Linked DNA regions of Homo sapiens: region 1 is linked to region 2. The links come from fine-mapping of genetic effects on gene expression. A gene starts in region 2. The other region holds a variant in brackets. All regions are shown on one strand. Distances are from middle to middle.

Region 1 (5,383 bases), 21 kb before region 2:
CCACTGCGGGCCCCACACGAAGCCAATACTAATTCCCCAGTTTCTGCCTTTTCAGAGACCCACTGTGTGCCCTGCCCAATCAAAGGGAAAAGGTGGGATGGAAAAAAGGAAAGAAAAATATAAGATAATTATTATGGCTCCTGACAGCTCTGTCAGTAGGATAAGGGCCTGAGATATGGAACCATCCTCTCTTGCAAACAGGGAGCATGCATGTGGAGGACCAAAGGTGGGAGGAAGGCTTGAAATCAAGAGAATGGAGGGTGAGAAAGGGAAGTGCAGGGAGTGGGGTCTACAGCCCCAAAGGTGAGCCTCAGGAAGGCCTCACCTCTCTGGGCAGTGCCAAGAATCCTGGGGAAGAAAATATGAGGAGTGGCCTGGCTCCCAGCCCTTGTGTCCTACTTCCCCTCTCCCATGCCTCATTATACCTGAAGGGCCAGTCCTGCCCCTGTCCCTGGATGCATGTGAGAACCCAGGAGGAGGACCTGCATGGGCTCTGGCCTACACTTGGAGTCTCAGCATCGTCACTCTTGCTGCTGTGCCCTAGTTCTAGAAATTCAGCTTCTATCTTGTTCCTAAGACTTGGGCCCCACCCTGTGCCGCAGGCCGGTAACTGAGCCCTGGTTCCCTCTGCCAGAGGCCTTGTCTTGGTAACCCTCTTCGTCTTCCTGGCCCTGTCTACTTCTCAGGGATTAGATTTTTCCCTTAAGCCCCAGCCAAGAAGCCAGGGGCACTGTTTCCTGCTCATAGAAGGAGATAGCATATTTTGATAACTAAGAACATAGATTTTGGAGTCAGACTTAGGTTAAAAAATCCTGGCTCTACCACGAACCAGCTATGTGACCTGGGTGTGTCATTTACCCTCTCTGAGAAAAAACATGCAGTATCATGTGCAGTCTTATGACCCAAAATATAATCCATAGACTGGCAGCATCAGCATCAGTGGGAGTTTGTTAGAATTGCAGAACCTCAGGCCCCAGCCTAGATCTATTGAGACATTAGCATGTTAACAAGAACCCAAGGTGATTTTGTGCACATTAAAGTTTAAGAAGCACTAATGTAGAGGAAAGAGCACAGGCTCTGGAACCAAGAAGATCTTGCTCTGAATCCCAGCTCTAAACCTCAGTCTTATCTGTAAAATGTGGATGGCAATACCTACTCCATATACTTATCTTGAGGATTATGTATATGAAGTTACAGGCACATGTTCTAAGAAACAGTGAATTCACTAACAGTGAATGTATCTATTACTATCTATGGCCTGCTTGGCTTTCCAAACCTGTTCCAGTGCCCTCTTATTAGAACATCTTCCTGATTCTGATTGCTTTAATAGACTACCTCCTTTCATCTGCTGCCAGGCTAGTCCACATCCTTCCAGCCTCTGCAATGAGAATATTCTCTGAGATCTGCCCCATCTCACTGGGTCCTGTCTAACTCCAGATCCCAGGTCCTTCCAGGCCTACTGTTCTGCTCCAGTTAACAGGAACACAGCTTACCACACCCCAGGAATTCATTCCACCAACATTGATTAGCACCAGCTTTGTGGCAGGCATAGTCTTGACTTTGGGAGCTCACAGAATAATGTTGTTAAAAAGATTAACTGAGGCACATAAGATTTAAAAGAGTTTACTTGAGCAAACAGCAATTCGTGAATCAGTCAGCTCCAAACCAGAAGTGGCTGGGGGGCTCCACTAAGGGTACACAAGTGGGAGGCTTTTACAGGAGGAACATGGAAGTAAGGCAAATAAAACATTTGATTGGTTACAGGTATACAGCTGTCTTATTTGGTCTGTCCTGTTAGAAAGTCCCTAGTCACATAATTATAAGTTTGTTGGTTGCTTCTGATTCATTGAGCTTAAGTTCTGTTTTTCTTTAACATAGGCATTTACAAGAAATAGCCCAAGTTAAGTTTCACTTATGTTCACAAATCAAGCAAGGTTAAGATCACTTAAGAGGCCTAACTGGCTTTTCCTGCTCAGGGATTCCTCAGGCCCAGTGTCCATTTCAATTACTTTAACACCGTAGCAGGGCAGACAAGCACAGAGGTGGTTACAATATAACAGAACAGGTACTATAATGGAGGAAGTACCAGGTGCTATGAAGGGCAAAGTCCGGATGCCATGGGAGCATGAAGCAAGGCCACGTGATTTGGACTGGCGATCAGGGAAGGCTGTCTGGAAGAAACACCATTTTAGGCGAGACTTAAAGGATAAATTGGAATATGTATTAGTCCGTCCTCACATTCCTATAAAGAAATCCCAGAAACTGGGTAATTTATAAAGAAAAGAGGTTCAATTGGCTCACCGTTCTGTAGGCTGTACAGGAAGCATAGTGGCATCTGCTTCTGGGGAGGCCTCAGGAAGCTTCCAATCATGGTGGAAGGTAAAGAGGGAGCAGGCACGTCACAATGGTGAAAGCAGGAGCAAGAGAGAGAAGGGGAGGCGCTGCACACTTTCAAATGACCAGATGGCACCAGAACTCACTCACTACCGTGAGGACAGTACCAAGGGGGATGCAGCTAAACCATTCATAAGAAATCTGCTCCCATGATCCAGTCACCTCTCACCAGGCCCCACCTCCAACATTGGGGATTACATTTCAATATGAGATTTGGGTGGGGACACAGATACAAATTATATCAGAATATGTCAAGAAGGAGCTGAGCAGAGAAGCCAGCGTGTCCAAAGCCCCAAGAGGAACTGAAATTGATTCAGAATGGCTAAAGTATGGGAGTAATCAGGGGAATATGACAAGAGAAGAGCCTAGAAGGCAGGTTCAGCTGGTCATGAAGGACCTTCTGAACCAAGTTAAGGAAGTTTGGACTTTAATCTATAGGCACTGAGCAGCTATTAATGTGTATTAAAAGAGATCATGATACTATCTGATTTTATAGAATAGGTGGCATAACCAGTGATTCTTGGGGGAAAGCAACGTTTAGTTTCTGATTC[A/G]TTTGCATGAGAGATTCTAGACTTGTGGTCACAGGTAAAGAATGAAGAAACCTACCTAGAGAAACTGGGAACTAGAGAAGAGAAAGGGGAAGGGATCCAGGAGAAAGGTACTCAGTTACATTTATACTATTCGGCAGATTCCACCTTCGAAATGTCCCGCCTCCTCCTTTCTTTTCCATTCTCTTGAAAAACACTAGGCAAGCCCCTTTTTCACGTCTGCATAATTGCAACAGCACCTTAACTAGTCTTCCAGAGGCTCATTTCACCAGATGGCTAGCAGACTTGATTTTCTAAAGCACTACCTCTTACATATCTGTCATTCATAGAAACTTCCAGGGCTCCCTGTTGTCTTTAAGATGAAGCCTGGACTCCTCTGGCTGGCATTTAAAGACCCTCCATAAGCTGGCCCAACTGCCCCACCTTATCCCTTCACAGTCTCCCCCCAGGTCTGACTGGTCTATGGACAGCACCCTCACCCCAGGTTGGGCTTTCTCAGTCCCTGACCTTGTCGGGACTTTTTCTGGCTGCTTTTCTAGGCACAGCTCAGTGGCTCTCCTTTGAAAGCACTTGCCAGTCCAACACAGCTGACCCTGAAACACACAAAACAAACTTTGTTGAAACTTTACAACTACAAAAATGACACCCAAGATCTCCTACCCAATCACATTATTCTCCTTTGTTCAGTTCTTTCCAAGGGGTGTGTATATGTGTATAATACATATTTTTTGTATGGCTGCTGTGTGTAGATATATATGTACATAATCTCATAAAACACCAATTAGCATTTCATATTCTTACAATCTTATATTTCATAAATGGGGATAATAATATTGCTAACCTATGGGTTTGCTGTCAGATAACTTAATACAGTGATATAGTTTAAATATGTGTCCCCCCAAATCTCATGTTGAAATGTAATCCTCAGTGTTGGAGGTGGGGACTGGTGGGAGGTGTTTAGGTCCTGGGCGTAGATTTCTCATGAATGGTTTAGCTCCATCCCCTTGGTGCTGTCCTCACCATAGTGTGTGTGTTCTCTCAAGATCTGATTGTTTAAAAGCGTGTGGCACCCTCTCCCTGTCTTGCTCCCGCTCTTGCCATATGACATGCCTTCTCCTGCTTTGCCTTCTGCCATGAGTAAAAGTTCCTTGAGGCCTTCCCTGAAGCTGAGCAGATACTGTAAAGCCTGCAGAACTGTGAGGCAATTAAACCTCTTTTCTTCGTAAATTACCCAGTCTCAGGTACTTCTTCATAGCAATGCAAGAATGGCATAATACATACAGAGATTCTCAAACTTGTTCATGCTGCAGAATCACACAGAAGCTTTGTTAGGACACATTTTCTTGGCTGGGTGCAGTGGCTCATGCTTGTAATCCCAGGACTTTGGGAGGCAGATCATTTGAGGTCAGGAGTTTGAGACCAGCCTGATCAACATGATGAAACCCCATCTGTATGAAAAATACAAAACAATTAGCTGGTGTGGTGGTGCATGCCTATAATCCCAGCTACCTGGGAGCCTGAAGCAGGAGAATCACTTGGGCCTGGGAGGTGGAGACTGCAGTAAGCCGAGATTGCATCACTGCACTCCAGCCTGGGATGCCTGAATTTGCATACCAGATGCTACTGGATTGAGGACCACACATTGAGAACCACTGAATTAATGCATGTAAAGTGCTCAGAATAGTGCCTGGCATGTAGTAAATGCCCAATAAATGGAGCTACGGAGCTATTCATTTGCTATTTCTGAGTAAAAATATTAACATTTACTTGTTTGATATTTAGATTGTTTATAGTTTTAAATAACATTGTTATTGAGATATAATTCATGTGCCATAACATTTACCATTTTACAATATACGATTCAGTAGTTTTTAGTATATTCAGAGTTGTGCAAGCATCACCACTATCAAATTTTAGAACATTTTCATCACCCCCAAAAGAAATACCATACCTATTAGCAGTTACTCCTCTTTCCCACTGACTCCCTGTTTGTAGTTTTTTTGAACTTATAAATAAAGTATCTCTAAACATAAGTACACATGGCTTCTTTTTATTTTGAATGATTTCAATAGAACAAATTCTAGGAGACGAATTCCTTAGTCAAAAATTATGAATATGTTTACATATAGCCACTCTTTGAAAGCATTAATTTACAATCATTGTGGCTTTTTTTCCTGCTGTTGCTTTTCATTGTTAGCATATTGCTTATTCTTACACCGCTTCAGTTTCCTTAAGTTGATGGCACCAGAATATGAGGTCCTTGGGGTTGAGAACTGTAATATTTTCATCTTTGTGTCCCCTAGGGCTACACTACTGAGTGTGGTAGTCACTAGCCAAACATGGCTGTTGGGTACTTGAAATGTGTCTAGTGCAACTGAGACACTGAATTTTTCATTTAGTTAAAATTTAAAATGAAGGGAGATCAATTTATTTTCAACAAA
Region 2 (5,383 bases):
CAGGTCTCAATCAATTTAGCAGTTTATTTTGCCAAGATTAAGGACGTGTCTGGGAGTGAGGCTTGTGCCTTTCTCCAAAGATGACTTTCAGGGCTTCACTATTAAAAGGGGAAAAGTAGGCTGGAGGAGAAAGAGGGAGGGTACATTAATCCACATGTTGCAAGAGAAAAGGAGCAGGTAGGGGAATAGTCAATTGGTATTTGTCTCAGGCTCAGTAAATCGGCACACAAGATAAGGTGAACACACAGTAAATACTTGTAGAGATATTTAACATTTTATCTGTAGCTATCCGCTTAGGAACAATAGCAAAGGCAGTTGCTTGCATGACTCCGTTGAGCTTAATTTTTTTCTTTTGGCATAGTGAACTGGGGTCCCAAGTTATTTTCCTTTCGCATTCCCTATACCCCAAAGGATTGCTATCTAGAGAGGCTAAGAAAAATCTGAACAGACAGGCCTTGCTGGGATTCCCCCCTCAGTCTAGTTCTGTCAGATCATACTCTTTTTGTCCTATCACATTTCTACACGCTGTCCATTCTTCATCAAACCTAACCATAAAAATGGAATCTTCATTTCTGAAGGCTCCCGTGTCATGTAAAACTTTCAATAAATTCATCAAACTTTTTTCTTGTTAACTTCTTTTGTTATAGGAGTGTCTTCTATGACCCTTATGATGGGTGAGGAAAGGTATCACACTTTTCTGCCCCTATAGTTGACAAGTATTTTATTTTTTTAGAGATGGGGTCTCCCTCTTTCACCTTTTTTTTAGAGATAGGGTCTTGCTCCGTCACCCAGGCTGGAGTGCAGTGGCACGATCATGGCTCACTGCTGCCTTGACATGGGCTCAAGTGATTCTCCTGCCTCAGCCTCCAGAGTAGCTGGGACTACAGGTTCAAGTCACCGTTCCTGGTGGACAATTATTTTAATAATCAAGGCCGGGAGCAGTGGCTCATGCCTGTAATCCCAGCACTTTGGGAGGCCGAGGCAGGTGGATAGTGAGGTCAGGAGTTTGAGACCAGCCTGGCCAACCATGGTTTAGTAGAAACCCCGTCTCTACTAAAAATACAAAAAATGAGCTGGATATGGTGGCGGGTGCCTGTAATCCCAGCTACTCAGGAGGCTGAGGCAGGAGAATCGCTTGAACAGGGAGGCAGAGGTTGCAGTGAGCCAAGATCGCGGCACTGCACTCCAGCTTGGGCAACAGTATGAGACTCCGCTCAAAAAAAAAAAAAAAAAAAAAGGCCGGGCGCGGTGGCTTACGCCTGTAATCCCAGCACTTTGGGAGGCTGAGGCGGGTGGATCATGAGGTCAGGAGATCGAGACCATCCTAGCTAACATGGTGAAACCCTGTCTCTACTAAAAAAAAAAAAAAAAAAAAAAAAATCAGCCGGGCGTGGTGGCAAGTGCCTGTAGTCCCAGCTACTCGGGAGGGCGAGACAGGAGAATCGCTTGAACCCGGGAGGCGGAGGTTGCAGTGAGCCGAGATCGCGCCACTGCACTCCAGCTTGGGCAACAGAGCGAGACTCGGTCTCAAAAAAACCCAAAATATGGCAGTGCAATTTGTTTTCTCATTGCTATCATAAAGCATATGAACAAACTAAATTTCAAATTCCCCGAAAAGGAAAAGTTTATTGCTGATCTAATTAGACAGGTCCGAAAATTTATGTAGAAATAGAAACTTTTCATAATACAAATCTTGATAAAACATTACAAAAGCTACTGGATAATTGACTAAGTATGCTGCAACAGCATCCTGAGCTTCCACAGTGGGCCTGAAGCAGCAAATTAAATGTTAGAGGAGTGGGGACTGAACACCCTCCTGCCTTCTTGAATCCAGCAAGATCTAGATACCAGGATTTCCTTACCTCACCTGCCCAGATACAGGTGTTATTCTTAATTCCAAAAGACAGCTTCAAGTCGGTAAGATCTGATTTCTAGACCCAGCTCTGTTGGACGAGTTGTGAACAAAAAATTATACACTATCATTCACCCTTTCGGTGCTTTATTTCCTAAGGCATGGGATGGGAACAATGAGTATCCGTCCAACCTACTTCACCAGCTTGTGAAAAACCAGAGTGAGAGAACACATCTGAAAGCACTGGGTAATGATGAGGCAGGTTATACTGAAACATGCACTGCCAGAGTTTGAACCAAGTTCTGCTGAAGACCTGTGTGACCGCGGTAAGTCATGTAAATATGAACCGTTCCCCAATTTGTAAAACGTATTCTTTTCATGTCCCCAAACTGGTAGGAGCGAAGAGTGTCGGGGCGTTATTGGAGCCGTTTCTCAGCGCTCCACAGTGCACACCAAGAGGGCAGGTGTCCTCGCACTCGGTTTCTAAACTCTGGCTCTGGGCTTCTCTAGCCTCGCTCTCTTATTTACAGATGAAGAAGGCTCAGAGACCGAGTGACTTGTCCACGGTCACACAAGGAGTAGTGTTACAGAATCGATTCCAGGGCCACCGGGTCTGTAAGGCATTTGGCGCGGTGGCCGTTGGATGAGCAGCCAGCAATGGCGGCTCTGCAATGTCGACACCGCAAAGCCAAGCCAAGGCCCATCACCTAGCGGCCGGTTCACGCACTACAAGAAAAGTGCCGTGAAAAAAGACTCTGGGTGCTGCGGCAGACGGGAGCCAATACGCGCTAAGTTCGCTCTGCTAATTCCTTTTTTCTATTGGTCCTTCCAACTGTCAATCAATTATTTGACTGTCTCTTATTGGCTTGCCGTCAATCATTTTACTCAGTCTACCAATCACACGCTCTTTGCCAAGTGCTTTTTTTCGTCCTGACGACTCTTTCTGAGTCTGACGAATTTAGCCAGTTCCTTTATTCCATTGGCCAGATCAGACTCCTCCTCTCGTTTATCCTGTTGGGGGCGGAAGTGAGAAAGCCCTTATTCGTATTGGCTTAGATTTGCAAGCGGCAGTTGTCTATCAAATCTATCAAGTCGCCCTTAGCGCTCAGGAAGTACGACACCGGAAGGGGTGGGCTTTGCGAAGATGGCGGCGCTGGTGAGTTTGGTGTGGTTTCTTCCTCGCGTAGCTATTGTGGAGTTGTCCTTTGCCTTCAGCGGCTGGAGGCAAACTGTTGGTACCAGGGAAGGGTGGTGATGAAAGTTGCTTCAGGGAGGCGGCCTCCCTAGAGTTACCGTTCCTGTCCGGTAACCCAAGGGGCTGGCTTTAAGGCGAGTCTGTGAACCCGAGTGTGAAGGCCCCGAGTCTGGGTGTCTGACGGAGAGAGGGCAGTTTCCCACCCTAGACGTTCCACTTTCCTATAATCCTGAGGAAAGAATGACTTTTCTTTACGCCTCCTCTCCCTTCTGTAGGGGGTGCTGGAGTCCGACCTGCCAAGTGCCGTGACACTTCTGAAAAATCTCCAGGAGCAAGTGAGTAGTGTCGCCTCTGGAATAAATTAGTCACGGATTGGCTTTGAGTTTGTGTACTTCACCTCAAAACTTTGGTGATTGAGATACGTGAATGCTTCCAAAAACCTTAGAGTAAAATGATGTAATCAAAACCTTTTCACGCCAGAATTCTAAGTAATTGATTCTGCACCCAAGGGAATACAAGAAACTCCAAAAAGAAATTATATGAATAGTTTTCCTTTATTCATATAGCTAAGGAAACCAGTGCTTGGAATGGTAACATGACTTGCCCTTTGGGTGCCCAGGTAATACACACTTATATACAGATGCTTCTCGACTTAACGATGGAGGTTATGGCCTGATAAACCCATTGTAATTCGAAAACCTCATAAGTCGAAATTTAGGCTTGATGCCGCTGCCCAGCATCACGAGAAAAGGACGGTTTCTACCGAATGCATATTTCTTTTACACCCTCGTAAAGTGGAAATTAAGTCATAAGTCGGGGAGTTATGTAGTTCTATGCATTGTAAGTTCAACTAGTACAAACAAAATTACAGTGCTTCAGTCACTACTCTCTCAGTCCTTTTCTCCTCCCTGTGGTTCAGTAAAAGATGGTCTCTTCTTTAAGAAGTGGAAAGTTTTTTTTTTTTTAAACTTTTTGAAGAACCATCTCTCCTATGCTTTCCGAGAAGTGAGAAGATAGTACTATACTTTAGACAGTGTTTCAGATAATTTTTAGGTGGCATTGTTTAGCTTTTGCTCTTCACAGTTTGCAGACATAATTTGATATAATCTAATCACTTGTTTTATTTGGGCTAATTTCAGGTGATGGCTGTAACTGCACAAGTGAAATCACTGACACAAAAAGTTCAAGCTGGTGCCTATCCTACAGAAAAGGTAAGATGTACTCAAACAGTAAGCATCCCCTGACTTAATGTTCTCAGTAGTTCTTTCATTGTATGTTTATTGTGTCTTATATATCCTAAGTGCTCGAGCTTCAAACATAAATATGATCCAGTTTCTGTGCTGAAGTCTAGAGGGAAGACAAAGCAAAGCAATAGATGTAAGTATTAATAGTAGCAGTCACATTACAGAGTTATGAGTCTCCAGCCAAAGAGAGGGATTAATTAACTGCCAGAAGAGCAGAGGGATTCAGGACAGGCTTCCCAGAGGAGGTGATAGGATTTTGAGGAATAAATGGGAGGGACAGAAAGAAGGAACATGTGCAAAGGCACAAAGGCCTGAAAGTATGGTGATAAGGGAAAGGAGTAAGTCATTTTTGTGATAGGATGTACTTTCTGTGTTATGTGTGTTGGGGGTAGGAAATAAGACTGGAAAAGTCACTCTGAAGATTACTGTAGGCCAACTGAGGAGTTACTTTCAGATTTCATCTAATCTAAGACACTTATTAATTGGGACATATCACTTATTGTATATATTAAGAAAAAATGTGACAGGCCGGGCATGGTGGCTCATGCCTGTAATTCCAGCACTTCAGGAGGCTGAGGCTGGAGGATCGCTTGAGCTCAGGAGTTCGGGACCAACCTGGGTAACATAGTGAGACCCTACAAAAGTTAAAAATTAGCCGGGCATGATGGCATGTGCCTGTAGTCCTAGCCACTCAGGAGGCTGAGGCCAGAGGATTGCTTAAGCCTGGGAGGTTGAGGCTGCAGTAAGCTGTGATTGTGCCACTGCATTCAGCCTGGGTGACAGAGCAAGACCCTGTCTCAAAAAAAAAAAAAAAATTGCTTATGACATAATACCAAGATGCCAGTGACTGAAACATGCATCCTGATTTCAGAGATGTTAAAATATGAAAACCATGTGCATCTTAAAATTGAAATATGCGCCTGTAATCCCAACACTTTGGGAGGCCAGAGTGGGAGGATTGCTTGAGCCCATGGGTTTGAGACCAGCCTGGGCAATGTGGTGAGACCTATCTCTATAAAAAAAAATTAGCTGGGCGCAGTGGTGTGTGCCTGTAGTCCCAGCTACTCAGGAGGCTGAGGTGAATGGATCGGT

Alleles and levels. Positions count from the first base shown, and alleles are read on the strand shown. Sizes are in standard deviations (SD) of each study's normalised expression.
As copies of A replace G in region 1, the expression in lymphoblastoid cells of the gene that starts at base 2,984 in region 2 goes down (large effect, 0.85 SD a copy in CAP).

The links. PIP is the estimated chance that this variant, and not a neighbour inherited with it, causes the effect. A credible set is the group of variants that fine-mapping cannot tell apart.
Region 1: its variant is the best candidate, but not a certain one, in a credible set for the expression of NGDN in lymphoblastoid cells (CAP, PIP 0.76).

The regions. Positions count from the first base shown.
Region 1 is chr14:23,446,072-23,451,454 of GRCh38, forward strand. No RefSeq gene overlaps it. Among named protein-coding and RNA genes, the nearest start is that of MYH7, 13 kb to the left of the region's middle. The variant A/G (reference allele first, on the strand shown) is at 2,946.
Region 2 is chr14:23,466,720-23,472,102 of GRCh38, forward strand. NGDN (neuroguidin) reads left to right here and starts at 2,984. Exons shown (of 11, transcript NM_001042635.2): 1 at 2,984-3,008; 2 at 3,323-3,382; 3 at 4,187-4,258. The coding sequence starts at 2,997. RefSeq lists a silencer at 2,611-2,660 and an enhancer at 2,747-3,687.